2 separate regions of the Homo sapiens genome follow, and region 2 is linked to region 1. The links come from fine-mapping of genetic effects on gene expression. A gene starts in region 1. The other region holds a variant in brackets. All regions are shown on one strand. Distances are from middle to middle. Region 1 holds the start of LINC02268 (long intergenic non-protein coding RNA 2268). Region 2 overlaps LINC02268 (long intergenic non-protein coding RNA 2268).

Evidence for each region. PIP is the estimated chance that this variant, and not a neighbour inherited with it, causes the effect.
Region 2: its variant is the best candidate, but not a certain one, in a credible set for the expression of LINC02268 in gastroesophageal junction (GTEx, PIP 0.55).

Annotation. Positions count from the first base shown.
Region 1 is chr4:174,211,161-174,227,625 of GRCh38, forward strand. LINC02268 (long intergenic non-protein coding RNA 2268) reads right to left here and starts at 9,238. Exons shown (of 5, transcript NR_125896.1): 1 at 9,154-9,238. RefSeq lists enhancers at 3,146-3,205, 3,316-3,976.
Region 2 is chr4:174,106,010-174,122,474 of GRCh38, forward strand. It overlaps LINC02268 (long intergenic non-protein coding RNA 2268), which reads right to left. Exons shown (of 5, transcript NR_125896.1): 2 at 13,888-14,077. Among named protein-coding and RNA genes, the nearest start is that of LINC02268, 110 kb to the right of the region's middle. The variant G/A (reference allele first, on the strand shown) is at 8,982.

The DNA of each region.
Region 1 (16,465 bases):
CTACACTAGAGGAAGTTTCCTTTAAACATACCTCTGTACAAATGGTAATTTTGTGCTTCTGAATGGAGAGTGATTCCTGGTTAATTCTGAAGCCAAGTTTATGAGCAGCTTAACTTTACAAAAGAAAAAGGAAGCAGAAACACTGGATTTTACAAGTAAAGTTTCAGTAAACGTCAGCTTCGGATGACAGTGGGAACTAAAGGACATGGGACAGAGACAATGAAACGAAACCAGAACTCTACCTACTGTTTTCTTACCAATTGTCCCTGCATTTATATATGAAATTTTCAGAAGCGCATGGTAATCTTGCCATCTAATCCTCTACAGTTGACAAAGTGCTTTCATACGCATTTTCTCCCTTTTCTGCAGGCTATGATCCCTGAACACTCTCAGCCTTGTCAGAGAGACCTCCAGGATGCTACTTGAGGCTGAAGAGTAGCGTTCTGGGTCCCCAGCTCAGTAGGCACCACCTCTCAGGGAAGTGACCACCACTACGCTCTCAGCTCCGCAAGTCGCTGGACAGTCAATAGCGCTCACACGGTGTCTACCGGATCTGGCACGGTCAAGACACAGGAACAGCCGTACTTTCCTGCGGGTAAGAGGCTTTTCTTTTGTGCATCACGTGCAGAAGAAGCCACTCCGAAGTGCAAACACCTTTCTAAAGTTTTCAGTGCTTCCTAAAATGCAGACATCGACGCCTTGCTGAGTTATCCGATCCTTTGATGATCAAATAAAATTAAGGCCAGCTCCCTGCTGTTTGATCTGTGGCTCAGTTTCTCTAAGGGCTGCCGCGGGTTCCGCAAAGACTCACTCCAGAATCCCCAGCTCCCTCGCGTCAGCGAATGTCCCGCTGGTCCAGGCAGCCTTTTCCTGCGCGGTTCTTCAGTTCCTTTTTCTAAAGCTCTATTTATACAAATTACTTTTTTCTTCTTTTCATTAAGCAATCAGGATTTATTTTCTTTTCTCTCTGTATCAGCCATGGACACATTCACTGATGAAGAACCAATCAACGTTTTGTGTTCTTATTTATTTTTATTTCTGATGAGGCAGGTTCCAATCAAAGAGCAAAGTCAGAGAAAATAATCAAACAGCTCGCGGTGGCCGCTTTGCCTTTGTTTTTATTCTAGTTTTCTTTGGTGGGTCATTTTTAATTCTCTTCTTTGTTAAGGGGTAGTTAAATCTGTATCTTTGTGCTCAGCAAGAGTGGCCCGTGTAGTTAAGAAGGCCCAGAGAGCTTCCTTGCCCCAGTGTTCAATGGGCAGCTTCCCTTCTCACTGAGGAGGAGACTTTCAGTGGAGAAAGAGAAATGGAAAAACTTTCCAGCAAAATCAGTCAATGCATGGAGAAACCTGCCTTTCAGGAGCTGCTAATTCTTTCCCAGGCAACTCCTACTCCCCTAGAGAGGAGGAGGAGAATGAGACCTCAGGTAAGTAAAAGATCCAAGCTCAGTGCTGATGGAGTGAGAAAAATCCCTCTCTCAGTGAGGGACAGAACCTGCTTTTTGTCTTGAAGTCGGCATTGTGTTACTGAAGATGTGGGGGCCAAGATTATTTTCAGGACACTAAAAATCTGAAATTGTTGACTTCATAAGTTGAACAATGACCAACACCAGTTGAGAATGGCCTGGAGTACCCTTCATCTTACCCCCCACCCCAGCAATGAAAATAGCCTCTGTGAGCACAAAGGTGTGGAGAGTGCTATCTGCTATTAAGCACATCAATTACATTGTGGAAAGGCTATGACTTAAACTACACATAATGAAGATACTTCTTAGGTGACACAGAGAAAAGTTTTGACCAGATGATTGGCGTTGTTCCTTACGTTTCTGTTAAAAATCACATCCTCTCAGCTCCCAGCCCAAAGTGAGTCCTAATGTTAACCTGAGACTCCTTCTAGAGTGGAAGCTCTAGGAAAGGGTCTGTGTGTGTGTGTGTGTGTGTGTGTGTATGCGCACATGTGTGTCTTTAAACTGTTGTGTGCATGTGTGTCTTTAAACTGTGTCCCCAGTGTCTAAAACAGTAGGCATCAAGTAAATATTTGTGAATTGAATGACAGAACATTAGAAGCAACACTACCATCCCCACTGCACCCCACCCACCCACCCCGGTGAAAAATGGAATTTCCCAGCCAAGATTAGTGAAAGAAGGAAAAGACAGGGGTTAAAGTGCTCTTTGCCAGAGTTTTGGGAAGAATTGGCCACCTGGTAAAATAAGTACTGACCCAACGACATCTTCGCCTACTCTTTATAATAAAGGGAAGTAAAATCACAGGTAAATAAGATGGGGGCGTTGCCGCAGAGAGTGCTTCTGAGGGTCCTTCTCTGGGATCTTGGAAAGAAGATATCCTGGAACAGGGGGCTCAGTTGGAAGGTGGCATACACATTAGCTTTCTAAAATTAAATCTATAAACACAAAACTGCAGAACTTTCAAACTACTGTGTAAGTAAAGGAAGTCTCTCCACTGAAAGCTCAGCTGGCTGTTAAGTGGGTTTTAGAAACAGCTCTAGTAAGCGAACCTATCTGCGATTTTCGGGTTTCCATTCCTATTCGACTTCCCTCCTCTGGGTCCTTACCGAAAGGGAAGGTCCCAAAGGACCACCAGCGCGCTCTCGGAGGCTCCAGGACTAGACATTGGACTCCCACAGCGCAACACCATAGGGACTCCGGTGTTCGGTTCCCGTGGCCCTCTCCTTGGCTCCCGGTCACCGTCCTCACACCCCCTGGCCCCAGTTACTGACGGAAGCCATGTGCAGCTGCCATAATGTGTATAAAAGAATCTCTCCCTGGCGTTGGTTTCTTCTCTTCTTGGAATGCTTTTGGCAGATCCTCCGCGTTTTCCGGGTCTCTTGGGAGTCTGAACATGCATTTTCCTTTATTTCAGACAGGATTCCGAGTGTTAACTAGATTGTGCCCTCCCCACTACCTATCCTGCCCATCTTCCTTCTCAGCCGTCGGGTGCGGGAGGAACGCCCTTGCCAACCTCAGCCTTTTTGATCTTCCGCGGGCAGAGACTCATCAGAGCCAGGAGGACTGTAACTACCCCCGGGGCGTGTACCGCCGAAGCCTGAAGAGGCTGGTTGGGCCAAAATAGCAGTCGCTGCAGGCACCAGTTTCAGCCCGTCACCTGAGTGCCGGTTCCTGTGGGCGCGCCAGTCTCGCAGGCAGCGCGCCCAAGCTCGCGGATCGCCCTCTCACATTTTTAGAAGCCAAGAAAAGCACTTTTGAAATTCACTCCTTCGACCGTGGGCAGAGGAGCAGGTGGGCGCCGAGCCCTAGCTGAGGGTGGGGGGTCGCGGAGGAGAGGAACTGGAAAATGGGAAATAGGTGTCTGCTGACCTAGAGTTCTTCGGCTTTGATTTTAAGCGGCAGTGAGGCTGGGTGGTTTCGCCCCCCTCATCCCCTCGGTCGCTGGCGCAGATTGATCCTGGAGCTAGTTACGGGTGTTAAACTGGTACGCGGGTGGGGCAATTCATTAGGCAAGAAATGGATTAGTTGTTTATTATCTATAAACATTCCAACCACAGCAACCAATCATAAAACCGCGGAAGGGCCTGTAAAGTAAAGCAGCAGCGAAGCCTCCATGTGGGCAGCTCAGGCTTAGCGATTGTTCCCGGGTGATAAAGGGTCGATTAGGGAAGTAGAGCTAGGAAGGTGGGGGCGGGGGAGCGGGCGATAATTAAGCGAGTCGTCAGGAAATTGCTTTCTAGATGGGGATCATGATGCCTCTAACTTGAACGGGGCAGGAGAAATATTGGGGTGATTTGGAAGACGGTGATAAGGGAAAGCACAAAATAAGGATTGGAGGGCCGCAGTGAGGTCATTAGTGAAGCTGATGCCGGAGATAAAAGCTGTTGATTAATTGAGGGGAGCAATTTAGTCTTTGGTTTCTTGGTAAAATGCTTAGTCACTAACCATGAAAGCGGCCTAATAATATTTTATGGGGGTGGGGAGGAGTTTAAAACTGGCATCTTTCTAGTAGCAGAAATTCACCTTTGAGTATGGCTTTTTAAAATTCCTCTTTGGAATAAAACGTTTTCTAATAAGAGTTAGTCTCAAAAAAAAGTTAATATTAGGTTGGTGCAAAAGTAATTGCGGTTTCTGCCATTACTTTCAAATGACACAAACCGCATTTACTTTTGCACCAACTTAATACTTTTTCTTTTTTAAGTATAAAGCTTTTGTTTTTAACAAAATAACTATTTGGTTTCTTTGGGGTTTCGTAAAACAAACTTTAAACTCATTGCATATTTGACATTTTACTATATTAGAAAGTGATGAAATAATTATGCTGGTTTTCGAATAACTAATTCAAGTATACTGTTTTCACTTTGATTCAGAACCTATTACTCAGAAAACAAGTTAGTGGCAAAGTTCTTAATCGTTTAATAAATATATTGGTTTGGAAATTTATTAGAACTAAGATGTAGAATATAGTAATATACACACGTTAGAGGTTTCCTTTCTCAAATTAAAAAAAAAATGGTAATTTAAGTGTAACCGTCCAAAAACGGGCATGAGGCATAAATGAAAAGTTTGATAAATTATTTTTTAAAACCTTCTTATGGAATTTCTTAGATCAAGATAAAGAGCGTTACCTGCATCCCAGAAATTCCTCTCCTGCAAGATGTTTTTTAAAATCAATTTATTAGATTTTTGTTTTGGGGATGTTTATGTTTAAATAATTGCTCATCAAGTGCTTGGATTTCTTTTCAGGACGAGTATTGTAGATTTTCCTCCCTTGGGGACTACTTGCCTAAAAATAAAATGATTCGAGCATTTTGAAGAAGGAACAAAAACAGCCTCCACATCCTTTTTTTTTTTTTTTTTTTTCCTGCCTCTGGCAGCCCACACTCCTTCCCCCAGCTTTCTTTATTCCATATGAGAGACATAACAAACAAACGATTACATGTTGAAAAACACATCTGAAAACAGAAAGGTCACGTTACTACCGAGTCCTGGGGAACATTAATCTGATGTTTGGAAAACAGTTGACAGTTGAAGGTTGGAGTTTCTCTTTTCAACTCCTGGACAGAGAGAGAGAAAGAGAGACAGAGAGAGAGAGAGAGTTGAATGAAAAAAAGAAGGGAAGAGACCACTTTGTGGCCTTTTCACTTCAGGAATAATTGAGGGACTGCCAAATTTCTAACCCAGATTTAAAAATGCAAACACATTCACAAAGAGGACTAACGATTTGAAATGGCTCAAGTTGGCATTGACTCTAAGTGAGAAGGTGTGTGTGTGTGTGTGTGTGTGTGTGTTGTCTTAAAATAATTAATGTGAATAGCGAAAAGTAATCACGATAACATCAAGCCCTGCATGCCTGAGGGGAGAGTTTGCTGGACAAAAAACAGTCCCTTTACTAATAGCTTGTGAGAAGGTGAAAGTTGATTGCCTGACCACTCGTCTCTCTCCAGCGTTTCTCTAAGTCCGAGCCCCCATCTCTCCCAGTCCTCCCGGCTCAGCGAGGAATTCCTTTTCTTGACTTGTTTAAGTGCTGGTAACCCAGGGCTCAGTGGCTGAAGCAGCTGGGTGTCTAAAACCCCGATATCTGGCTGCCACTGGGGTTCCTCCTATGTGAATTGTGAGGTAGAATGAGGAAGAAGATCTGAAGTACATTCCTGGGACTTTGGAAATTATCATATTGAAAATTGTACTAGTAAATTGCAAAGACAACAAATAATGAGTCCTTCTCTACAGGCATTCTCAGATCCTGGTATCTCTACAACACAGTGGATATTTGAGGCAGGACGATGGATGGGGCCAGGTGTGAGAGCGAGAATCAAGAAACCTAGGATCAAGGAGTTTTACCAGAGCTTTGTGTGACCTCGTGCAATGTCACTTTAACCTGGATAGCGTCAGGTTTCCTCACGCATAAAATAAGATCAGATGATGCCCTCTTGGATTCTTTGACTGCAGGACAATCATTAGGCCATAGTGAACAGATGCGCTTGGTTGCCAGACCGCGCCCTTTGCGGGTCTATCAAAAGGGCAAGCGCATATTCTGGAGCTGTCTCGGAGACTTGGACAGAAAGATTCGAGGCAAATATTCTAGGCTGGGAAATTTCGCGCCGAGCCCCCCCCTCAGTTAGCCTGTCTAAAGGCTGGTGTGGCCAGAGCGAGGCAGAGAGCTCTGCACCTACTGTCGGGGCTGACAATGATTTATGCGCTTGTGACCCACGTAGACCATAAACCTAGTTTGCTAGACGTACAGGGAACTGCGCCGCAGTTAATGCAGAGGACTTATCCTCTGACCTGCAATGTCTCCCCACCTGGTGCTCTACAGCTCCAGAGAGCAGGGATTTCAGCTTTTCCTCCCTCATTGGATCCAATTTCAATCCCCTCGGTTAACTGAAAGTGTGTTGACTTCCACCCAGCCGGCAGGACCCTAAGGGCGCCTGGAGCAGTCTGGTGCGGGTCCTGGCTGCAGCATGCCCAGCAGAGCTCCGGGTGCAGGAGGCTGCAAAGCCACCGCCGCGTCCAGGCCCCTTGAGCGGAGGTGGGAACGATCCGCCTTAGAGTTCAAGGTGAATTGCTGTGACAGTGGCGGGTGGAGGAGGGGAGTTCGAGCCGTTCGCCTCGGGGAAGAATTATCCCCGATCATTTATTTTTAGATCTGAATTCCTCCAGAACCCAGCAGAGGCTGTGGCCAGAGCCCCAGGGCCAGGCAAGCGGCCAAGCTGCGCTCTCGATAAAGGAGCCAGAATGGTTCCATCTGGTTACAAACATATCTTTTTATTAAAAAGCAATCAGATCCTGAAGCGCTTCCCTTGCGGTTTACCGCTCTCCGCAGGCTGCTTCTCCGAAGCCAGCGGTGGTAGCGCCCACTCGGTTGAGCCCACGCCTCCGCCAGGCAGCGCCTCCGCCAGGCAGACCTCCTGCGGGACATTTTGTGGCCAGGGGGGTTCCTGCCCAGGGACCTCTAATAGGGTCGGTGGAAGCTAATTTGAATCTTCCCAGTTCCTTCCCTGTTTATTTCTCAACCCAGCAGTTCAAAAATTCACTTTATAACGGTCCCCTAACAAAAACACGAGTAAGAAAGATAGCAAAGAATTAAGCTGGACAGGCACCCATGTTGCGAAAAAGGTTTTGCTTGGAGACTGCAGGAGAGGGCTATCCCTCTTTACAATTCACGACGTTACTACCAACTTTGCCATTGAGTGGTTCCTCTCCCTGCCCGAATTCCTGGCCATCTTCGTTCCAGAGAGCGATGCAATCATGGCCTTGAAACCGAACGGGGCGTAACGTGCCATTCCTCTCCAGCTCCCGAGCCCCACTCCCACCCTTGCCGTTGAAACTGTGAAAAAGCCGCCAAAGTTTGGGCACCCAGCCTGGCAGTCGGAAGACAGTGAGATAAAGAATGCGATAGTAAGTCCTTAAGTGCTTCCTAGAGATAAGGTCCCGGAATCCTGGAAAAATTCAGTCTGGCCTCCCTACTTCAGCAAGTCGCCTCCTGCTTCTGTCAGCCCCCTCCCCACACACACCTGGAGGGAGAGGCGGTGGCCACAGGGGTAGCTGGGGCAGACCCTCCGCTCCTCCACTCCCGGTGGCCAGGGGTCCTAAGGCCACGCGGCTGGCTTTCTTCTCTGGGAATCAGGAGATGATAATGAGAAAATCCCTCAACCATTGGCGCGACGAAACTCAAAAATGGACAGCCCTCCCTTATTCATAAATATTACTTCAAATATGTTAAAGACGTTAAGTAATTTTTAGTCTCTTTAGAATTTCCAACGCTATAGTTTATTATGACAGATAAGGTTTGATTTGTGCTAGTCGCGTGCCAGGACACTGAAGGTGAAAAGAAGGAAAACAAGAAAGAGTTTCTAAAAGAATACACGTAACATTTAAGATAACTACATACAAAGTGCTCACTTAATTTCTCTTAAAACAGTTACAATGAATAAATTACATTTCCAACTTAATAAAATTTAATTCTCTTAGTCGTTTGTACAATTGATGGCCTTTGGTTATAAAATTTTACTTTTTGGAGAAATATTGCCCCTCTGTCAAATTATAGCACATGACAAATAATATAGCAAATAATAGGTTTGACTTTTAAACATACACAGTTATTTGAAACAAAATGTTTTTAACTTTCTGGCAGCATAGGCAAAACAGTAAAAGCACAGTTATATTTTAGGAATTATCTTAATACATTCCCCTCTATGATATCAGAACTTACTCCTGATTGAACCAAGGAAGAACAGCTAACTCTTCGGATAAAACAATTTTTTCTCCTTCATTCCCAGGCATGGTTTGGAAAGCAATAAATGCATATTTGCAAGAAGTCATGAAAAATCAAGATTAAAAATACTGTATAATCTTCCTGGTAAAACATATATACATTTTATATCTGACCATATGAAACTGTCATCTATAAGTATTACATTTTAATGAAGCATAACTCCTCATGATATATTTATTTCATAACAAATGGCAAAGGTAATATTACTTATCTTCAAGTATTTTTTCTTTTAAAAGCTCCTCCCACCAAATGAGAGACCTCTATTTAAACAGCAACTTCTATTGAAATATATGATCTGAAGGAATTCGCTATTTGAAAGTCTTTTGACAGCTTTACAGATTATATCTGTTGAGTTTTTTCTCTCTCTCTTATTTCCACAATTTACATGTGTGAATATATGGGTAACCCTCACTAACTTTTCAACATCAGTCACGCACATTAGGTAGAAAAAATTAATTTTGAAACTATTCTTTGTTTTTAAAATGATATATGTCATTACTGTTAGGTGAGTAAGCTAAGTGTGTTTTTTTGGAAGGGGAAGGTAGGTTAATCACAATGATAGAGCAAATATAAATAGTATTATGTTGTTGGTGTTAAAAGGCAAAACCTCTTAGTCTGTGAAGATCACCTACTTACCTTCTCTCCATTAAAAAAAGAGTTGAACTTTTTGGCTCCCTGTATAATGTGTGTTCTCCATAGATTTTATACTAAATATTAATATTAAGATTATAGAGCTAACCTTTTTCTAATGTCAAAGAGCTTTTGAACAATACAGGCACAAGAGAGAAAAGACACCTACCTCATACATTCACATCCCAAATTTCCTATCTCCAATGCAACAGGAATAATCTTTTTATTCCATTAAAATGGTCACTAACCTTATAATAATAAAGGCATGTTTTAATCTCTTACCTGAAGGAGTCTTATCAATGTAACAAGAACTGAAATTGTGACTGGTCCTTGTTGTCGTTTACAGTACAGAGATCTGTACTGTATTGCCTTTGTGGAGGGCTGAAGTAACAACATATGACTACTGCCTCCTGAGACCCTTATGAAAATAAGATATATAGCTGGTTCAAATAAATGTTTTAGGCCTTGACCCAGGAATATAATTGAGAAAAACAAATTATTTCACATACACTAAAACATAATTAAAATGTTATTCTAAGCTTTGCTTTTGTGTGTTATGTTGTATGTGCATACTAATGTTATCCTCAATCATAAAGCTATGTAAGAAATGATTGTACTTTTAAAAATGTTACGTAAACATCTTTTTTCCTAAAAGTGGCAAAAATTACCTTAGAAAGCAGTTACAGTGCAACTTTCACTTTTAAAGGTTTTCAAGATTGAATATTTTAATTCATAACATATTTCTCATTGTTAAAATTCTTTGGCTTCCTCATATCTGGCATTTAAAATTTTTCAGTTGTTTTGTAGACTATGTATGTAAGGTTGCATTTTTCACTGTCAACATAAAGTTATTGTTTGCTTTGGATTTAATATGTATTTGGATATGTATGCATATTTGTTTAAAACTATGAACTCTGGGGAGGGTTTTAATTCTATGCAACATAAGTCAGTTTTATATAATGAATATATACAACTTCAGCTAATAAAAAGTAAGATTTTAATCTTGACAATATATTCCTAAAATGCATTAAGATATTGTCAATCTAAAATGAGCTTGATTTGAGAACAAAAAGAATAAGTTCTTTTAATGAACTAGTGGTATATTGTTATATGTATATATGTTTTGCTGATTTTAGCAAGAAAATGGAAAATAATCCATAAGAAAATGGAAAATAATCCTCCTGCAAAAGAAACCTGAAGTGGATTACCTAATAAATTGTTTTCAGCCTGAATTTTAAGGTATCACGACATAGTCATGTTTGTTTTTTAAAATATCATTTTCAAAAATCAAAGACATTAATGGTATTCTCTATTTCAAAACTATGATCATTATTCTGCTTTTTGCCACCAATATTTATGCTAGGAGAAACATGTTTAAGAGTCATCAACACCTTGGGCTCATTGACCATACGAATGAGTCACATGGTCAAAATGAATAAAATGTTATTTAGAAAAAGGAAAAATATATATATATATTTATACATATGCATAGGTATTCTTTTTAAATGAATAAAAGGGCTTCATAATTTGGGACAGCAGAAAAAGGGAGTAGCAAGCATCACAGCCCAAAGCAAGAATGAAAGTAGCAATGGTGTCTAGACAAAGGAGCAAGGATATTTGCTTTTACAGTTAGTTTTATTTGGGATATCTTGGAAGAAAGAAGGGTAGGCTCTCAATGGCTAAATTAAATTATCTGGATGATTTGTCTACACAGAGCAATAATGACATCTCTTTTTGTTGTTGTTTGCTTTTGTTTTGTTTTTTGTTTGTTTGTTTGGAGACAGAGTCTCACTCTGTTGACCAGACTGGAGTTGCCCGGGCTGGAGTGCAGTGGCATGATCTCGGCTCACTGCAGCCTCCACTTCACGGATTCAAGAGATTCTCCTGCCTCAGCCTTCTGAGTAGCTGGGATTAAAGGTGCCCACCACCACACCAGCTAATTTTGGTGTTTCTAGTAGAGACAGGGGTTTCACCATTTTGGCCAGGCTGGTCTTGAACTCCTGACTTCAAGTGATCCGCCTGCCTTGGCCTCCCAAAATGCAGAGATTAGAGGCCTGAGCCACCGCGCCCGGCTCCTCTTCCTGATGTGCTATGTAGATACATCTCTAACAGGAAACTATAGATCCCCCAGCATTTGCTTTTGAAATAATTCAAAACTTTCATTTCAGTTAGGAAACACATTTTGCCAACATCATATTGTCTATCTTTTCCATTACATTCCCCATAACAATAGTTTTTAAATGAAGTATGCCTCAACTTAATGTTTATTATTAATGTAACAACTATTTGTTGACTGTTTACTACAATTCTCGGAGCACCAATGACTAAAACAAACAAAATAACCTTCCCTTGGTAGAGTTGGGGAACTTTTCCGCAGAGCATGGAAATTAAGGGGAAAAATCCTGTAGGTTTCAGGTTATCCACTAGGTGGCAAGGTGTGCAAAAGTGACTGCCTATTGCAGAGCAAAATTTGGTACAAAGAATGTGGCTTTCTATGAAAATTTCCACCATATTTTGTTTGTAATGATATTTGTAAAGTCTCTTTTTGAGCTCTACAGTTAATAGCTAACGGTCAGGATTCACTCTGTGTTCAGTTTTACAAAGCATTCTTTGCTTGGGGCTCATCTCTTCAAGAAGAGAGCCAGCTGTGTTCCCTAGTGGCCCATCTACAAGATCCCCCAGCTTACCTTAAGAGATTTTTCTCTTTTCCTCCCTATATTTCTCTGTGCCCCCAGATGTGTGGATTATGAAATCTGCCTAAGGGTCTGAACATCTGGCTTTGCAGAAGGACCACAAAGCGTTGGTTCAATTTTATTCAAATTTACCTAGATCAATTTAGATATCACACTTTGATTTGCTGATGTGGGGGGTTAGTGTCCAAAACACTAACATCTTACAATAACATCCATGCTGATAAGTAGTCAAACACATATGCCCATATGTACATACATGCAATTATGAATATATTTTATTTTCAGAGACTACTTAAGTGAGATCTCACATTTATAGCAAAGAAATAAAATTATTTCATTTAATCAGACCTCTTCTTTGGAAAAGAATTGTGATATTTTTCTCAGTGAAATTGGGCCTTTATGCATGTATTTTGTTTTCAGAGACCATTTAAGTGAGATCTCACATTTATAGCAAAGAAACACAATTACTTCATTTAATCACACCTTTTCTTTGGTAAAGAATTGTGTTCTTTCTCTCAATGAAATTGGATCTTTATGCATCTTTAGATCTCCCAAAGAGATTAAAGAAAAAAAATCTTTCCGTCTTTGAAAAATGGTTTATACAGGATGTAGAACACTTGTAGGGTTGTTTAAATATAGAGTTTGAGATTTTTCTGTGCTTGTCTAACATATGAAATCTGTATCTTTGTTTTCAGATGAGTAGCCTCTAATCCAAAAGTGAGATATTAGCTAGGCATGGTGGCACTCACCAGTAGTCCCAGCTACTTGAGAGGCCAAGGTAGGAGGACTGCTTGAGCCCTGGAGGTCAAGAGCAGCCTGGGAAGCATAGCAAGACCCCACTCTCTAAAAATACATAAATAAAGTGAGATTTTAGAGATAAATATTTTTCTTTGTGAAAATGTTCTCCCCAACAAGACTGTGTGTCTAAGGACATAATTATTAGTAAAACATTAACATTTTAATGTTTATAGCTGAAATTTTTCTCCTTAGATATTCACTTTGGCTGTGATAATTCTCAACACATTCAAAATGTGTGCCTCATAGCAGAGTTTATACATTTGGCCATGAGTTTTGATAACAGCTGTGAATAAGCAAAGGATATATTATTTTATACATAAATTGGAAATATGGGTTGTTTCTGATAGATGTGGTTGTTTTCCATTTATCAGAGTTGTAGGGAAGCTATTTTTCGAAGTTAGGGAAAAACTTTTAAGTCAGGCTCAATTCCTCTCAATACACAATCAAGCACCAATTTATATCTGTTCTGCTTAGCTCAGGGCCTTCCACATAGTTCAATTAACAAATTTACTGATTGATAACTACAATTTGTTTCATGGAGAAGTCATTCATACAAAATGTATTTATAGATCATAATGTAATCAAGCCAAGGTATTACTAGTAAAAAAAAAATCCATTCTTAATACAATTTTAAATGTAAAGGGATTTTACCTTCAGTTAGTTTAAACAAAGGAATAAATCTCACCCACCCTCCCCCCAACCCTCACTGCAATAATTCTGCTTTGGGTTTCAGGACCTAGAAATAGAGCTTTTAGTGTTTTTATTTTTAATTCCCATTACAAAATATGTCAACTTTTTAATGACTTTATTATGATGAAATTCTATTCTGGATTACTATCATTTTAGGCTTTTCTCATAGACTTACTGTCTTTTACGAGAATTTTACTTTTTAGTTCACAATAGTATGACAAGCAGAGCAGAACTCAATAAAATTTTTTAAAACCACAAATTTCTCAATAACTCCTCAATACATCAAAGTTTTCATGTAACCATATTTTCTACTCAAAATTTTCAATATACATTTTCTTCATAATTATAATTATTGTAAACATTTTATTTAGGGTTTTTACTTCATATGTTATTATAAACAGTTATCTTATCCTTAACTAGTTTTTATATTTATCTAGATTAATGGCTAAACTCCCTTGCATTTCTTTCTAAGCATTATCCTTCCCAGTGTTCCTCATTTCAGTAAAGGGCACTAGCAGCTGTCCGGTTTTTAAAGCCAAAAATCCAGGAGTTCTCAGGCCCTCCCTTCTCCTCCCCTCCCCTCCCCTCCCCTCCCCTCCCCTCCCCTCCCCTCCCCTCCCTTCCCCTCTCCTCCCCTCCCCTCTCCTCCCCTCTCCTCCCCTCTCCTCCCCTCTCCTCCCCTCCCCTCCCCTCTCCTCTTTTCTCCCCTCCCCTCCTCTCCCCTCCTCTCTCCTCTTTTCTCCCCTCCCCTCCCCTCTTCTCCCCTCCCCTCCCCTCCCGTCTCCTCCCCTCTTTTCTCTCTCTCTCTCTCTCTCTCTCTCGCGATATATATATATATATTTATTTTTGAGACACAGTCTTCCTTTGTCGCCCAGGCTGGGGTGCAGTAGTGTGATCTCAGCTCACTGCACCCTCAATCTCCCGGGCTCAAGCAATCCTCCCGCCTCAACCTCCCGACTAGCTGGGACCACAGGTGTGCACTACCACAACCAGCTCATTTTTATATTTTTATTTTTTGTAGAGATGGGGGTCTCACTATGTTGCCCAGCCTGGTCTTGAACTCCTGGGCTCAAGCAATTCTCCCACCTCGGCCTCCCAAAGGCCTGGGATTACAGGCATGAGCCATGGCACCATCTCAGTTCTCTGTATCTCCACTGCCGCCACCCAGTTCTAAGCCTTCATGACCTTCCATCTGAACAGCCTCAGATGCCTGCTAACTGGACTCCGGGCTTTCACTCTTGCTCCAGCCTATTACCCGCTCTTCACGCAGCAGTCAGGAATGATTGTTTTAAAAACATACATCACATCACATGACTCCTCTTTTAAAATCTTTCTGTAATGTTTTATTGCCCTTGAAATAGAATTCAGATTCTTTGCTACTACCTACCAGGCCCTGCCAGATACGGCTTCTGCCTTTTTTTTTTTTTTTCCAAACCCATCTCCCTCTGTGAGTTCCTTCCTTCCTCACATATTTCCTGACCTTTATCATGTTTTAGTGGCTTTTTTAGGTGCTGGGAATGGAGAAGTGAATATAACAGTGTCTTCTTTCATGGCGCTTACATTTTATGGTGCATGGACCAATGTTGTTTCTGCCTCCCGGGCTCAGCCTTTACTGCTCCTCTGCTTTGGAAAGCACTTATCCTCTCAGGGCTGCAAAGACAGAGCGAGATTAATCAGTAGATCCAGGACTCGCTAGCCTGTGACCTCTATAAATGGTCATGTTTATCTCCTCAGAGCATACTTCTGCAGGCTAAATAAATTAAATAATACAAAGCCCTTAGCACAATAAATGTAAGATAAATATGATCTATAATTTGGATTTTTATTATCAGTTTTGCAAAGAAATATTTCTACAACTTTTTCAGAGATTTCTGAGACTTGCTTCCTTATGGCATTGACCAAACTGCAAAATGAGCTCCCCTGCAGGAATTTTGAGCTACAAAATACATTCCCAAGAAGCTGGAAAAGTATTTCCTCCCAGAGCCAGGGCTCTGCTGTGCAGCATAATACAAATATCCCAAGCTTAACGCCATGGTTTTTATCATGGATGCTGATTAGAACATAATTTAGTGATGTTTTTGATTGGAAACAAATTTTGACCCCATGGTGCGTTACATTCAAAATGTCTCCATTGCAAAGTGTTTAAACTTTTATTATTGCATTTATCACATTGTATTATAGTCGTGGGTAGGGTAACCACACATCCTAAGTTTATGCCTTTTGTCCTGAAGTACCATCTGGTTTAGCATTTTAGCACTCTCAAAAGTGTCCTGGTTTAGACAATAAACTCTATAGTCCCCCAATTATGAGGCAGGTGCCTGGCTGCAGAGGCTGAGGAGCACTGGGGTGGTCCTAAGCTAAGTGTGGGTCTGTTTGAGAAATTGGTGATGCTGGTGACCCAGAGATGTCTGCTTGTTTTGCATGCAGAGAAGGGCATAGAGGAGAAACTTAGGCACCGAGGGCCAAGGGCAGAATCAGTGGAGGAGAGTAAGGAGGGTCTCCAAGACTACACCTAAACTCTAGAAGAAGAGGGCTCCTCTTCTCATTTCTGCTAAGAACACAACACATTCTAAGGCAGTGAGGATGGAAGAGAACAGCTTCGTTTTGGTTCTTTTGAGGCTTGTAGTTGTATTATAAGACAGCAAGGAATCAAGGGCAATGAGACAAAACTTAGAAGATGCCTTGCAATCCTAAACCTCAGTGAAGTGTGAAAACAACTAAACCTGGGTTTCTGAGGACTAGAAGAAACATTTGGGGTTGGCTGAGGATTGGGTTTGCATGCATCTTAATCACCAGAGTAAGATATAATTTGGTTTGGTTTCATGCTAAAGTTTTAGTTTTCGGTACTTCGAATTAAAGGGTCAGATACAGTCTGTCAGCTAAAAAAGAATATTTGTTAAGTAGAATACTTCATGTCCTGGCAGGAGGAAACCTTTCTGAACAGAGTGCACCTTGGTTATTTAGTTTAAAATTTTTATTCTGGAAGATTGTTTAAATTGAGACAGGATGGTAACTTTTTATATACAAGGAATGTTATTAAAGTACTTTGAGATTTTTGGATGCTTGATTTGAGAGCACTTGTCAAAATCAATTTGTTCATACAACACGTATTTAGATCCTACAGCTTGCCATGCACTGTGCTAAGTGCTCATGACAATATCACAATGCATATCAACTCCTCTAGTTTCTTCTGCTATGTCTATGCTGAGGACTCTCCCAGAACAGTATCTTAGCCTTTATCTCCCATCTTAACACTATACAACTAACAGCTGAATACCTTCACATAATTGTCTTATGAATACTTCAAATTGACCACAGTGAACTCATTCTCACCTGCTTACATCCTCCCCATCATCACTACCTTCCTCCCAACCCAAGAAGACGTGTCCTTCACTGACATTCCCTCCATCTAG
Region 2 (16,465 bases), 110 kb before region 1:
GGTCTGAATCGAAATTCCAGTCAAGCGGCTACACTAACCATGTAACTTTGGGAAGTTATTCAATCAGTCTAATCTTCAATTTCCTCAAAGATAAATTAGAGATGGCAGTACTATCAGGATTATATGAGAGACTATTTGAACATCACCTGGCACATAGTAGCAGATCAGTAAGTGACAGTATCATGAAAACATACTCCCTTCTGCCTAACCAGAAAGGCGAAGACTCAGGTGGGAACCTCATTGCGAATACGTGTGAGTAATTACTCAAGATTCTTTCTCTTGGAAGATTTTATTCAAAGGTGAAGTAAGCAAATACTAGCATTAGCTCCAAGGCTACCTCAGCCCCCAAATATCTACAACACACAGTTGGAGTTTGTCCTTTGAGTTAAGGCAATGCACATGAAATATGGGACTCTGAAGCTATACAGTATTTGATCACCATCAAATACAAGATATTTGGAAGTACTGCTAAACCTCTGCAGTCTGTTACAAAACAATAATAAAGCAGAGGTGTTAAATATCTGCTATCTGCTATTGAAAGAAATACAAACCATTCAAAAGGCACAATTTAGATATGATGAGATTAGAAAATTCCATTTTAGATGCATATTTTACCTGAAATTGATTTCCTTAGCCCTCAGTAGCCACTAATTTATTAATCTGTATTAGTTTTTCCATTTCATTTTTCTGAGAGAAGGTGGAGCAAAGAACAGGTAACTGATTTAGGTGAGGATGGGAAACTCCTACCACCTGGGAGGGCAGTCTTCACGGCATGAGGCAGTGATGGGCTTGGGCTGACCGCAGCTACTGGGGAGCAATGGGGGGCAAGACAAGGGAAGAGCTGCTCCAAACAAAATGATTTCATTTTCTAGTTTTTTTGTGAAAACACTTCTGTCCACAGTCATAAAATCACTTTCTTTGAGATACACAATATTTTCTTGGCTATTCTCATTAATATAGCAATATTATAACAATTTTGTAAATTTTAAAGAAATTACTGGGACCTTTAACTGCAAAAGTCATCTTGTGAGGTAATGAACAAAAAAGAAATGCTTCAACTGAATTAATAGTACTTCTTCATGCTTGTAGGACTCTAGAAAAAGTGTATGAGCTAGAATTTTGGAAATAGCACGTAACAGAAACAACAGCCAAGTGGGAAATTAAAGTCCAAAAGCAAAAGCAGTGGCAGTTCCAGAATGTTTCCAAAGGAGAGGCATAGGGGTCATCTTTTAGGTGGAAAGAAAACTAGGGAATTTTCCTTGATACAGTATTTGCAGAGTTTTTGCTTACAGGATATATTTATTTAGAGTAACTTGGTACCAGGAGTTGGAGGGGGCCCTGACGGAGATTATGAGTGAAATAAAGTCCCTACAAGACAAAAAAAAAAAAAAGTCTCACATTTCTTTGCCCATATACCTGGAATTGCTAAAATGAGAAGGGAAAAAAATCTAAAATTATATCCTTAGCTGAAAAACTTTACCCAATATTTTTCTGCTTATAAGAAACTAAGTTTAATCAATAATCAACATTGATTGCCTACAATATGTTTGGCATAGAAATTGGTACTGGGTAGGAACAAAATATGTTCTCTGCCCTCTTGTTGCTTAAATCAGGAGAGAAGACGGACATCAGGCAAGAAAGTGGTGTGATTGGTTTCAGAGGAGGAGGAAGGATGAGTGGAGATTCAACCTGGTCTAGAGGGTCGGCGAGGTCTCCCTGAGGAAGTGGCATTCCAAAAGGGGTTGCCTAGGCAAAAGCTGTGAGTTAAGGGGTGAGAGAGCTGAAAGGAGAACAGGAACAGAAAACATTTCTAGCAGAAGGAACTGAGTGTGGGAAACTCAAGAAGCAGAACGATAAAGAGTCTGAGGAATTTAAAAATCCTATCTGTCTGGAGCCGTGAGGGTGTTATCGGCCAAAGTCTGTAAGAAACAGGAAAACCACATTGGTAAGTCTAACAAAGAGAATTGAGAATTGCTTCATAGGCATGAGACAACAAAAGACTATAACTTCAAGAAACAGGAATCCCTAAGGCTAGGAGTACAAGGAGAAGAGAATAGGGTTACTAGAACCTAGAAGCTTGGAGGAGGGACCAGAGCTGGAACCTAGACCTCGGAGCAAGGGACTCTGGCCAACAGATCCTGATGGTATCTGTGGGGACACAGTGAGGCTGTTTTGGGTTTTGCAGGGAGGCTGGAGCCCACTGCTATTAGGGTGAAGAGCTCCTGCTGGGGTGATCTGCATACTCGGGAAAAACTCAAAGGAGCCTGCAATCACCCCTACCTCGTTGTTGCCAGCAGCATCTCATCCTTATGCTGCTGTTGTAAGATCAGGAGGCTGTTGCCCTAGTCTAGGTGAGAGAAGGCAGTGACCTGGACTGGGGTGATGTGTAGCAGTTATTTAGTAATATAAAATCTGAAGAATTTGTGATGGATTACACTGGAAACGGAAGGAAAGGGAAAGAACAAGGACAACTCATAGATTTCACCGGAGCAAGTAGGTGGGTGCTAAGGCCATGAACCAATACAGGGTTCCAAGTAAGAAAGGAGGGGTTGAAGAACAGAAGTTTAATTTGGGACGCCTATAAGGCATTCAAGCAGGAAGAGGGGCTAGAGCTTGGGGGACATAAGTGATCTAGAAATATAGTTTGGAAAACTTAGGTAGGACAGATAGTAGCTGAAGCCATGGAAATGAGTAATCTAGCCTAGGAGGGTATTTAGGTCACCAAAGAGGGCTTGGACAATGCTGGAGCAAACTTTTAAAGGAAGCTGTACCATACATGAGCTAAAATGCTTCTCTTTGATCATCCACACGTACAGCCGTGAACTGGAGAATTATCACTGAAATATGAGAGACAGCAACATACCAGCAGAAGAAAAGACAATAACCTTATCAGTCGAAATTATTCTGGTTGTTGCTAAGCAATTTAAATTTGATAGAAGCATAAGTTTACTTCTGAATAAAATTACCTGTCAATTTATACCTTTTTATCAACCGCTATCTTCCACCACTGGAAAATAATGCAATTGAATCTGACACTCTCTTTAAGAAAGTCTCCACATGCATAGCCAATTGCATTTTGATATGGAATTGCCCCCCTTTTTAATATTAATACTTGATTTACAACTGTATATTCATAGTTAAAAACTACCATTTTATTAAAGTATATCAAGTTGTTTTATTCTCCATTATTTTGCTTTTCACTTAATCTTTTTAATTCCTGCCCCAAATTAGAGTAATTCACTCCAACCAAAGCCTATTGTAAATGTATGCTGCTGGCTAAGTGTTCTCTTTTCAGTTTAAAGGGGCATCAGTCAGGACTCTCCATTCTTCCCAAAACTGCAGAGTGAAAAGTACAGCTGCTTCTTTCAAGGAAAGTGAAAAAAAAATGAAAAAAACTGAAGCCAAGTGTTTTGCTTTTCTGTTATTTTAAAATTCAAACTCTCAGAAGAGCTTCAATTTCTGTCTTTGATCGCAAAAGCAATTTATAAATAGGAAGAATTACTAAAGAGGTGGGATTTATCCTTTTCTTTTAATCCAGATTTTTCTGACATTTCAACTATTTCTAAAAAAAGATGAGAAGGTAAGATCTCTGCAACAGCTCTGCAAGGGTGAAATAACAGATACAAAGCTTTATAACATTTTTATGTATTGAAGTTTTTAAACTATACTAGAATAAAGTTACAAATTTCAGGTAGTTAGCAAGAAATTTTGCCTGACTTTTGTATTTTTTTCTCCTCAAATCACCTTACAAAGTGTTTTTAAATCGTGACAACCTCCAGAATTTCTCATTTTATTTGTCTTGGGCTCATAAGTCTCTTTCATAGATATTTCAGCAAGGATTGGAAAAGGCAGGGTGAAAAAAAGAGTAAGACTTGCTTCATCATTTTAAAAACATCAGAACTAAAATATATTATGGACATAAATACAAACTTAGAGTTTCCAAAGTGGATACAATTTGTGCAGCTCAATGTTTGATATCTAGATATATTTGTAACATCTCAAAGCACTCTGCCCTGATTTTTTTAGACAGATTTACAGAACCCAGCTTAAGTTAACAGAAGTTGTAAATTATGTCTAAGTGGAATTTATAAACAAAAGTTAAAGTTGAGCATGCAAGGGAATATTGAAAAGTTTGCATAATGCTGTCAACATCTACAGTGCCAATGTTCATCCTTTCTTTTGTTATTAGCTGAACTTTTTTCTGTATACATGGATATATGTCTGAGTAAGTACGTGTGTACAGATGTATGTTTTCAAATGAAACAAAGCTGTGCAGTTATTATCGCAGGGGCCGACTGGTCTCTAGGAGCACGTGCTTCCCCTGGCCTATTAAAATACAGTACCAACATTTCCCTCCTGTAGCATTGTGAGTGTGATCTGACGTGAGCTTGCGTTTCTGGGAAAGCGCCTGGAGAATAGCAATTTAATTTAGAAACTGCTCAGCGTAAGTGTTGGGTAGGGTTTGACGGTACTGCATCAGGTGATGAGATAAATTTTCAGAGATACCACAAAGAAAGGTTGGAAATGTCATCAGAGAGTTTATATTAAGTGTAGTTTTCCTACAAAGAAATTGATTTTAAACACCATTTAAATTTATAATCTGTGTCAGATTTCAGTGTTTTATTGCATTACAGAAGTTAGATATTAGTACCTTGTTTTCAAACTGTTTTGGTACCTAGTATGGGCTTTTTCTTGAATTGCAAACATTGCTATTCTTTTGGATACTATTAAGCTAATAGCCAAAATGGAAATTCGTATGTCATGGAGATGACAAATATGTCTCCTGCTAATTGAAATGCTCTAATGTTGTTAAATAGTATTTTCGGATATGTTTACTCTTCTATAGCCTTTTTCATTCTTATTATACAGTCAGATGTTAAAATATGTGCATATATATATATATATATATATATGCACACATGCATATACACACATAATTTTATAGTTGGATTAGACCTAGAATGTCTTCAAAAAAATTATGAAAAAATTCCTCCTTCTCCACTTATCATCATTATCTAAAAAGCATGCATTCAGCTCAAATTTTATTGAGCACGCACAATGCATCTTAAGTAGTATTATATATTGTCCCTGAAATTAATAGGGGAAAAATATTTCAGTCTAGATGAAAATCGTGTTCATTAGTAACCGATACAATGTTATTTCCAAGGATACTCAACTTTATTTTCCTTTTGATGACACTCCGTGGAGAGAAAAAGTTGTTTAATTCTAAAATTGGACTGTTTCTTCTTAACTGGCCTATCAGCTTGCTTCTCTTCCTGCCTTTTTATTGAATCCATACTTTGTATTTCAGTGGCCCATTAAATTCTTCCTGCTTTTTAGAGTTTCTTTGAAAATATCTTGTGAATACTGCAGGAGAAAAATTGCACTGAGTGTTACAAATCTCCTGTATTCTCTAAACAGGGACAGAAATGTCTTTGGGTTTTGTTTGCTTTGTTTTGTTTTGTTTTTAAAGGAAGGATAGAACATTAACACATGACAACAGTGAGATTACACAGATAAATTTTTGAGTCCTTTTATCTAGTAAACATTCTAATGACCTACTTCAAAGGCAGGCTGGGAAGAAGCCTCCCTGTCCTCCTGCCAGAATGAGAGGCGAAGCTCTTTACCACTCATATGGGAGATATGAGGAGACTTTGAATGGATCATTGCTTTTTATGAGTAGTAATGAGGTGAGAAGTATTCTAGTGTGTGGCACAGGCCTTCATTAAGAAGCGTGAAACAGAATGGCTTATGGTTAAAGGGGGTAATTTGTTCTAACATACTTGCTAAATTGTGTTGTAACCATGCCAGTTAACAGCACTATATTTTCCATAGGATTCCTGAGTGCATTTGTGTGCAATTATTCTTCCCATACAAAATTCAGGGATTTTTCCAATAGCTTGTGTTAACTAGTTGACAATGCTCACTCCTTCAGTGGAAAGTACACGGAGCCCCACCGTTAAAAAGGGGTGAAAGAATCCAGAGATGTTCTCATTCTCTTTCTAAAGCCAAAGGGTTCTTGTAAAATCAAAAATTCACAGAACCCAAAATTAAATGAATACCATTTGTCCAAAAGGTAACATCAGAAGTAATAGGTAGTTTAATAACTACAAAGCTTCAATTTTCAAATATGCATTATAATTAATAGAATCCATAAGAAAGAAAATAAGATTTGGTGGTTTCAAGTCCTTCATTAAAAAAAAAAGACAAGAAAAACTGAAAAGTAAGAGCAATAATTTTGCTACATTTGTGAGGAAATTCTGCTCATAACAGAACTTGAAGTTCTACAACATACCAAGATTGCTTGTTCAGACTCTTACTGGGAACATTGAGCTAAGATTTTGTTCACTGGAAAAATCTTTCTACTTAGAGAAACATAACATGAAAACATAACATGTTTTTTTCACATGACCAACTATCAAATGAGAAAATGTTGTAGGACAGAAACATAAAGGTTTGGACAAGACCCAGAATTTGGGTATGTCATACGGGAAAACTATTTTATAAGTGGCAACTTTTTAAGACACATTATTACACGGGAAATGTTATAACATTAAAATTTGAGGGGAATATCCCTATGAATTTTCTGGAATTTTCTTGAAAGGCAATAACACGAATATGCATTGTTTTATAAAATATTTTGTAACTGATGGCACAATATTATTGTAATAAAAACATTAATTAAATATAATTGATAGACAATCACAGACTGAAAATGGAGACTTAAAATTTAAGCACCAAAAACCTTTACAGTGAAACAGGAAGTATTCATGTTTGTCCACTCTCTGGAATTTTTGAGCCTTTGCTGTGGGGGAGAAGAATTTCCGTTTTGTCACTTTCCATCCATTTCATTATTATTCAGTTTTTGCACATTCGTTATTTGATATTTTGAAAACAATGTTTGCAATCATAGGTAAGTACATGATTCTAGCTTCAAAAATAAATACTGTCAAACTTAATAGAAACCAGGCTGTGGGCCTCCAATAAATGTAATAGGCCCAGCCTCTCCTTTCTACTTCTTTTATTGGGTTTTCAGGAAAGTCTATGAAAGAAATTCTAATTGCAGCTGCTCCTAGCCAATGCTTAGGTTCTCTTCCCCTTAGAGAGGGAAATGGTAGCTCTGGGCTATACGGTGGAATGAGTGGTTTGGTGTTTGTTTTTTGTTTTCAAGCTAATTGAATATGTAGCATAGTAAATAACAAAAATTATATTTACACATTGCCTAATTTTCCTCACTGCGCCACAAGGGGTAAACCAGATACAGCTGTTATTTGAATACAAAATAACATCTTATTCAATGCTAAATTCACTGACCTAGAATGTTGCCCAGAGAGAACAAATCTTTTTATCAATGTCTGAATAGTTATTCTCAGAATGAATTTCACCTTTCCTCAATTTAACACAAATATGAACACTCTGAGTTAATAAGTGACAACTAGGATAGAAAACCTGGAGACTGACATAGGAAGAAATGTACTTTAAAGGGATATTTACCATTCTTTAAGCTTTCTTGTTATTTTTACTTCTTTTTTTTTTAAGAGACAGAGTCTCACTATATTGCCCTGCTGGTCTAGAACTCCTGGCCTCAAAGAATCTCCTCACCTCTCCCTCTTTAAGCTTTCTTTTGCATTGTGTCTTATTTATATCTGACTGGAAAAATTAAGACTTGTGAGACTGATAAAAAGAAGTAATACAAGGATTATATTAATACAGTGTGAAATGAATGTATTTCATTGAAACTGTTCTGAGCTAAGCTGGTCTAATTTTCTTATGACATCAGGGCTTCCCATAACTGGGAATTCTCATAGCTTCATGATATCAAATGCCTGCACTGGCTTGCGTGTAGTCTGGAGGTTTCTCTGAAATTAATTTTTTCAAATCAAGAATAAAACAAATATGAAGAAACAAAAGCATAATAACTATCAGAAAGAAAATATGTATCCACATATGTTGAGACTAAATGCTATGTAATAAAACATGAGTCCTGAGAGAGAAAATAGCTAAAATATTCCATGCCAAGTGTATACTCACACTTGAGAAAAGCTTTTATTGGAAGAGTACTAGTGGTTGCATTTTCATAAGAAAGGTGAAGCCATTTAAAAAAACTCTTGCATGCTCCAAGCCTCTAGCAGGTGTGAAGGTGACAATCCCATTCATCCAGTAGGAACTACCTGGGCAGTTGAAACGATGTGACAGCTCCATTCTCTCTGTTGTGGACATCTCTACTTAGGTGGGATTAAAGCAGTAGAATGCATAGGAATATCTAAAAAAAAAAGTACAGTTTTATTCTGTTTCATCAAAGTGTCTGAAAATTGAGGAGTAGAAAGGAAGAGGGATAAATATACTTGGGGCAACACTGGCAGAAGCCAACATTTTAAAGCAATCATTGTTGATCTTTTGATTCTCCTCTTTTGGTTGTATTAGACATCTTTCCAAATCCTCCTTGTGTGAGTCTCGGAAAGATGCTAAGCAAACTTAAGCATTTCCTTCATGACTTGGCACACTTAAGGTGGTACCCTAGCCTCCCCAAAATTTGTCACTGCCATATTAGTCATTACGGTACTTGAAATTTTACCTCTGTTACATCCATTCAATTACATCTGAAGATACCCACTCTTGATTTATACTATAACCCAAGGCCCAACTCAAGCGACTTCTACACATAAATTGGACTTATACGCTTCTGCCCATCGGAACCCCCTTGTCCTGGCTAGTATCTGTATCACATTTATTTTAGGTGGTTTTATTTAATTTCTCTACTTACTATTAGCTTTAGTTTGTTCCTAGATTGTTTCATGATAAACTCCTGAGGACAAATAACATATATTACAATTTACAATTTTTTTTGTTTCACCAAGAGTAATATACAAACAAAAAGTAATAGAAAAGTTGAAAGACACCCAGCACTTTGGGAGGCCGAGGCAGGTGGATCGCTTGAGCTCAGGAGTTTGAGACCAGCCTGCTCAACATGGTGAAACCCC[G/A]TCTCTATCAAAAATACAAAAAATGTAGCCAGGTGTGGTGGCGCAGGCCTATGGTCCCAGCTACTTGGGAGGCTGAGATGGGAGGATTGCTTGAGCCTGAGAGGAGGATGCTGCAGTGAGCCAAGATTGTGCCACTGCACTCCAACCTGGATGACAGAGTGAGACCCTGTCTCAAAAAAAAAAAAAAGAAGTTGAAAAACAGAAGAAACACACCAGCCTCAATACCTCCTTTCTTATTGTGTATATTAATATCTTTTAAGGAAAGACTCCAACCTTAATGCCTGATTTCTAATGAATCTCATAGTGGGAATTACTATCTCAATAAGAAGAAAAGAAATAAAATTGGCAAACAGCAGAAGTCTTGAGATGAGCATTACTTCATGGTACTTCTTGAGATTTCTCCTATATTACCCAGTCTGCTTGGCATTGTCTAGAAAAGGAGAGAGCAAAAAATGAAAGCAAAAATGAATCTGAAATGTTAGATATTTGGAAATGAATGAGAGACTGGTTTGAAGAAATATAAGAGAACAAAGACATGCTTGCATTTTGAAAGCCGTTTTCCATAAATTCTTCAAGAGCTGAATATGCTAATTTAGCACACTGAACCGGTGATTTGATTTATCCTGTTCTGGATTTCTGTAATATAAAGAAATTATACTACAGTGAATGTCTAAAAATAGCAAAGTGCAACCAATCATGTTCCTTATTTATTGAAAACCACTAAGTGAACGTGACATGAGTGGTTCTATTCATGATATTGAAAGAATTCCTTTTTATACCTCACAGAACAGAAAAGCCTTTTATCCTTTTAATCAGAACAACACCTTTCCAGATTATCTAACAAGTCAGAAAACCCATTTCTTATAGTATGATATGGCATGTTTTAGGTTGCTGGTCAAAACCTCCTTTAATTAAATTGGTCATATATATGAACCCAAAGTATTTAGAATTAAGGTCTCTGTAGTAAGACTAACCCATTTAATTTTCTTATTTATGCTATTCATAACTGAAGGAAATTTAAAGAAACTGCTAAATACTGCCCATTAATTTTCTCCTTGCTCAATTTTGATGTAGAAATAATTTCGCTTTTATTTGTTTACCAAGAAGTACCATATTTAGGAACATTTAGCTAGACGTTTCAAAGCTATAAATAAAATTCTAACTTAATTCTGCAAACTGTTTCGTACCCCAATAACTAGAACCATAGAAAATAACTGGCTGGCTGCCAAAAAGTAAGGCGTGGGATAGAAAGCCTTTCTAGTATTCAAGTTTCTGAAATGAGAAATTTAAATGAATGCTCCTTATGATGTCAAGAAATCTCCATCCTGCTTAGTCCAACTCAAATATTTCCAGTTTTCAAGTTAGTATCTCTGTTTAAAATAAGCAAATGTGGATTGGTCTTCAGTGTTTGTCTGGATACTTTCTGGCAGTGGAGAAACGGGCATGCAAGGGTTCCCAGATTCACCCCACAGCCTCGCATTAGAGCAAAGGTGTTAATTTCCCTTGTAATTTTTCCTTCTCAATAACAGCATGCTCAAACCCAAATATTTCTCAGTATATTATTACAATTTTAAAAAATTGCTGGCTTATCCAATTCTGATCTGAAAAACCTTTCTCTAATTAGTGTCTTTGCAAAACTGAACTCAGGCAAATTTTAATCCCTCATTTACTGATTTTATTTTAATACTATTACTCAGCATATGTTGGCTGCATTAAACCATTACAGTAAAAATTAAAATGAAAGTCATATGATTTATTCCCCTTTAAAAGTGCTCAATTGGTCTAGTAAAAGTCAAGTGCCAAATACCAGATGTCGGATTTAAAAGAAATTCTGAACAAGAAGGAAAAAACCCTCCCATTACTCTCTTAAGATATTTAGTTGAAATTAATGCCATCCCAGAAAAAAATAATATTAACATATGAATACATTAGTCTGAATATATTTGATTTAAGAAAGAAGAGATGCAGGGAATAAAAATAAAAATATATTAATATTTATTGATTTAAACCCCGCTTTTGAAAACTACATTTGTATTGCTGTTACACACAATTTTCAAGCCAACTTGATATTTTACAAAGAAAATTAGAGTGGTTGTTTCAATTTAGAATGCAGAAGGTCAGAATAGGAAGACAAGAAATAGTATAGATACTTATATCAAGTTTTTATTACTTTTCCTCCAAACTTTTGTTTCTCCTCACTATTTATCAGCATAATTTTTAACCAAAATCCACTTCCTGGAAAAATAAACTGATGTGCTGAAGTTAATAGAAAGATATGTTCAAAAGAAATAGCCAAATAAAGATAACTACCTTTTCAGTTCTTATCATACTTTCAAGACAGCTATTTCATATTCAACACTCCTAAAACATAGTTATTCCCCAACTCCAGATCTTTGCCTACATTACTTTTTTCTTTCAAAAATTGCTGTTCTCTTTCCAACAGTTAAGACCTACACCTCAAAGATGGTCTAACTATAGCATTTCTTCCATAATTTTTTAAAAATTATTCCTCCCCCACCCACTCTGCCATAACTACAATGCTGCTATAGTGGTCACTGGCTAGCAATTCCCAAAACACTACTGCCTTTCTCCCTGGATGCGGCAAGATTACAGTCCCCGGCTTTCTTTTTTAGTAAGGTATGGCCATGTGAAAGTAGACTGACCAATGGGCTGTCCGCAGAAGTAGTTATACCCTCTGTATGGGTATTTCCTTTCACTGTGCTGGCTGCATTTGATTGGCAGTATGATCGTGGCGGAAGTCCGTGCTGGAGGTGGTAGTTCTGGGGTTCCTGATGGCTCCATGCGGTAGATCCTGCCCTCCTGTTCACCCCAAACCCCAAACCCAGCCCTCCGTCCTATTGAACTTTACATAGCATAAAATATTATACTGTGTTTATCCACTGAGATTTCTCAGTTCCTCAGCAGCTGACAATATCTTAACTAATGTAAGTAAAATTATGATCTCTCAGTTGACAGAATATACATAATATTTTGTGTTTTTCTTGTCACTGCCTATATTCTCCTTATTTGTTAATGATACCTCTTCTGACAAGTTCCTTAAAGTCAGGAACTCCTCTTTTTTTTCAGCTTTTATTCCTTACAGCCTCTGGTAATAAGTAGATGCCTAATGAATTGCTCTTTATCTGTCAATCTGAGTTTATTATGCTACCCAAAACTAACAGTCTCTTGGTTCATTCATTTATTATTTTATTCATTTATTTATCCAAAATATCTGTTGCATCTTTGCCATTTGTCAGTGCATTAGACACCTTTGGGATATCTTCCCAGCTCACATTAACTCCCCATTCGTAAGGGGTGACCTTCGACAATAGTCTCAGTGCCTAAGCTTGTGGCTGACTTGACCAGAGTACATTATCTCACTCAAGCTGGGCCAGTTAGATCCGGTCCCCAGGCAAGTTGCTAGGAAATAGCTAGTTCATCCTAGCTCATGACTGAAATTGTACTCTACCTACTTGAAAGCATTGGCAGCTATGTAATGCCACATTGACCTAAGAAGCCCAAAAAAGTATAGAGCAAAGAGGAAAAATAAAATAAGCACCCCCAAAACGTAAAACCCTGAAGCCTCTCCATGGCCTGTCTGCAATTATTTCCTTAGACCAGCCTGAATTCTACCACTGTGCTCTATAGCTTAACTATACATTACCTGTTTTGTATAAGCTATGTCAGGATGGCTCCTGTTACTTGCAACTAATAAAATTTTAATTAATAAAACAAGACATTTTGCTTTTCCCAGGGATACAATGATGAACAAGAGATATATAGCTCTTACTCTTATAGTAAAACCAGTAGGTGGCAATTCAGTAACTTTGCAAGGGAAAAAAATGAACTTATTTTTCAACCCTCTCAGATGCTGATTTTCCTTCCTTTTGAAGAAAAAGATTTGGGGGTGATTTTCATTTGTGCTACACATGAAACAAGAGTTTTATTATTCATGATAATATCACTTTCTCCTCTCCTAATGTTTTTTCTCTTGTTATTTTGCGATTCCAAAGTGTAACAAAAATTGTAAATTTAAACATCGGAAAAAGAAGTCAAATACATCTGTGTTGAAAAGAGAAAGGTGGGAAACTTTGAATTGGGGTGATGGTAATGGCGATGTGACAAAGTGGAAAGATATAAAACATTAGTGAGATGAAAGACGCGGAACTTAGGAACTAACTACACACAAGAACAACAGAGGGGAGAACCAAGATGGCTGTGTTTCAAGCATGAGTCACTAGGAAAATGGCGCAAGACCAGGATGCTGGTTAAAGGGAAAAAAATGACACATGGCATATTGCTGCATTTCAGAAAGTCTCCATTCTCAGGGTACATCAAGATATTTTGGAGATCTTTGAAAAGATACAATTGCCCCTCCTTCAGCCCCAGAGATGATGAATCCATTGGTCAGGAGTGATTCTGTGTATTAGTGTTTTTAAAAACCCATGTTGATGGGATTGAGAACAAAATTCATTTGAAGTGTCTGGCTCTTCCACAAAAGTATTTGCTTGTTTACTTTCTAAAAGATGTTTCTTAGTAGACTCTGGGGACTTCAAAAGTGTGGAGGGAGGAAGAGGGCAAGGGTTGCAAAACTTCCTTTGGGTACTATGTTCACTATTTGGGTGATGGGTTCAATGTCAGAAACCTGCATGTGTAGCCCCTGAATCTAAAATTTTAAAAGAAAAATAAATCAATTTAAAACTAAAAATTTTTTTTTATTTAAAATAGTAAAACACTGTACAGAAAACTTGAAAACCATGCCACTTAGTAATATGGAGTTGAAAATTAAGGCAGAAGATAAGAGGAGGAATGAAAAAATGAAAACAAAGCAAAATACCTATTAAGTAATACAGAGGATGGAAAGGAAAGGGTATATTCTGTAAGTCCTGCAGTTTCTTTTCCTTACCTCAGATACTGAAGCTTCTAACAGAAAATCCAGAAGACTCTGGGAAGTAGGTGAGGTTTGACTTCAATTCCTCTTCTTGCTGAATTCCCAATCTTTCCGTGCCTCTCACACCACACTCAGTAATTGCCTGTTGCTTTTACTTACACAGACACTCCTAATCACTGACTTCAGCTTTTCTCTTCATTGCTTTCTGGGATGGAAAAGAAGGAATAGTTAGCTAGGGAATTATCCAAAGCATCGTTAATAATTACCTACAAAACAATTCGCTTCTATAGCTACTGAATGAATGAATAAGTTGCTACATAAGAATCAACTACAATTCTTTCCTTTTTCTCCTCTTCAAAAGGAAAAAAGAGAAGAGGCATTATCTACTATTTATTAAACTGAACTTAAACAAGAGATGAAACCTAACGCAGCTTCTCCTCCCTTACAGAATAGGTAAAACAGATATGAATCAGTGAAGCAGAAACCATGTAATAGAAAAAGTGGAATATAATGAATTTGGATTTGATGATGTTTTACAAGCAGATATCGCAAGTCAAATTTCACAGCAGTAAAAACAACAGAAGTCCACAAAGGATAGATGAAAACATGTCTCTCTCCTGTCTCTCTCCAATCTCTGTGTGTGTGTGAGAGAGTGTGTGCGCGGGCGTGTGCGTGTGTGTGCGCGTGTGTGTGTGCGCGTGCGTGCGTGTGTGTGCGTGCGTGCGTGTGTGTGTGTGGTGTAGGGAGAGGGATAGATTCCTTTTCAAAAAGTGTCCAGAGGGGGAAAAAAAATGCATCATGCCACCTAGTGGCGGAAATTAAGTTGATTCCTTTTAACTCGACAAAGCGACTTTGCCTTTCTTTAGAAAATCAGATGAATTCATTAACATAGTGGAATCTTGATTTGGCAAACTACACAGTAGTTAAAATGTAAATACCAGGTCTATGTTTTAATTTTTCATCCACCAATGGCATTAAGAAATATGATGAACTTTAAAGAGCCCTGAAGTCAGAAGCAGGATATCTTTCCTTCTCTTTCGACCAGGTCACTTAACCACCCTGGAGCTCAGTTTCCTCCATAAAGGGCCAGAATAGATGAACTCTTAGCTCTTCAATTCCATGTTTCAAAGTATGCAATAGACCACATAATCAGGGTACTCTTATCTAATGCAGTTCCTTGTGACAAAGTCAGGCCACCATCTTCACTGATTAAACGCCGGATGACACAACATGCCTTCTACACTTTCAGCCTCATTCCAGTCACATTTTACAGAGTCCGTGCTTCATTGCAAGCCTTTCTTTATTACTGCTTTGCATTATTGGATGTCTGCTGCTGAGAGTCCCTAGATTACAATTCTTAACTTCTGTGAACTGCAGTGGTGCATATTTGTGATGTATTTTTCTAACTTACGTGAATGTCCACAAATTCCCCTTTGAAATCAAGTAAAGTATTCCTCCAAGAGAAAAAGAAATAGTTTGGAATTATGTAGCAATATTTTTCAGACATTGTGAAGTATAATTGCCCCTTTCTCCCACTCTCACTAATAATATACATCCATAATGATATACATCTGTGAATCAGATTTAGAAAGGGCATTAAAAGCAACAATTAATCTGGGCTATCCAGAATACATAATCTCCTACTAACTAATCTGTCCTTGTAACTTAGCGACTAAAGTGTGAACATTTTGTTTTAATTCAAAAAGAAATAAAATTTTCTTAAAATATAAGATTTTCTTTTTTATTTATTTTATTTTATGTATTTATTTATTTACTTTTTGAGATGGAGTCTCACACTGTTGCCTAGGCTGGAGTGCAATGGTGCAGTCTTGGCTCACTTCCACCTCTGCCTCCTGGCTTCAAGTGATTCCCCTGCCTCAGCCTCCCGAGTGGCTGGAATTACAGGTGCCCACCACCACGCCCGGCTAATTTTTTGTATTTTTAGTGGAGACTGGGTTTCACCATGTTGGCCAGGCTGGTCTCGAACTCCTGACCTCGTGATCCACCCACCTCGGCCTCCAAAAGTGCTGGGATTACAGGTGTAAGCCACCGTGCCCAGCCATAATATTTTCATTATTCCAAATGTGATGGAAAACCCATAACACTTAGCTGATGCAAATTGTTTAAAAAGTATCAGATACATAGATGAAAAGTCTTTTTAGTCAGATATTTGACTTTCTCTGCAGCAAAGCCTTGCCCCTCACCCTCAGCCCCAGCCAGCTGAGGGAAGAGTAATTAGCTCTCCAAAGAGAATAAGTGGTTAATGCAAGAACATGTTTATTTGCTCTAAGAAGACTGTCTTAAGGTTATATTCTCTACCCAGATTGCATCTTCACTGTTGACAACACAGTGTGTCACAGATGAAATTATGCTTGGGGTAAAATTAGTATTTCCTTCTCCAAACTGGAGATTAGAAAATAAATGGGTCAAGCATAGGAATGGGATAGTACACACATTAGCATTCTATGAACACACAGAGGGACTGGCAATTAGATTCATGGTAAATATTGCTGACATTCCCCTGATGCAAACTCACAAATATAAGAGAGAGAATTTTCTAGAACATGCTTATCAATGTATTTGTTTCTTTGTT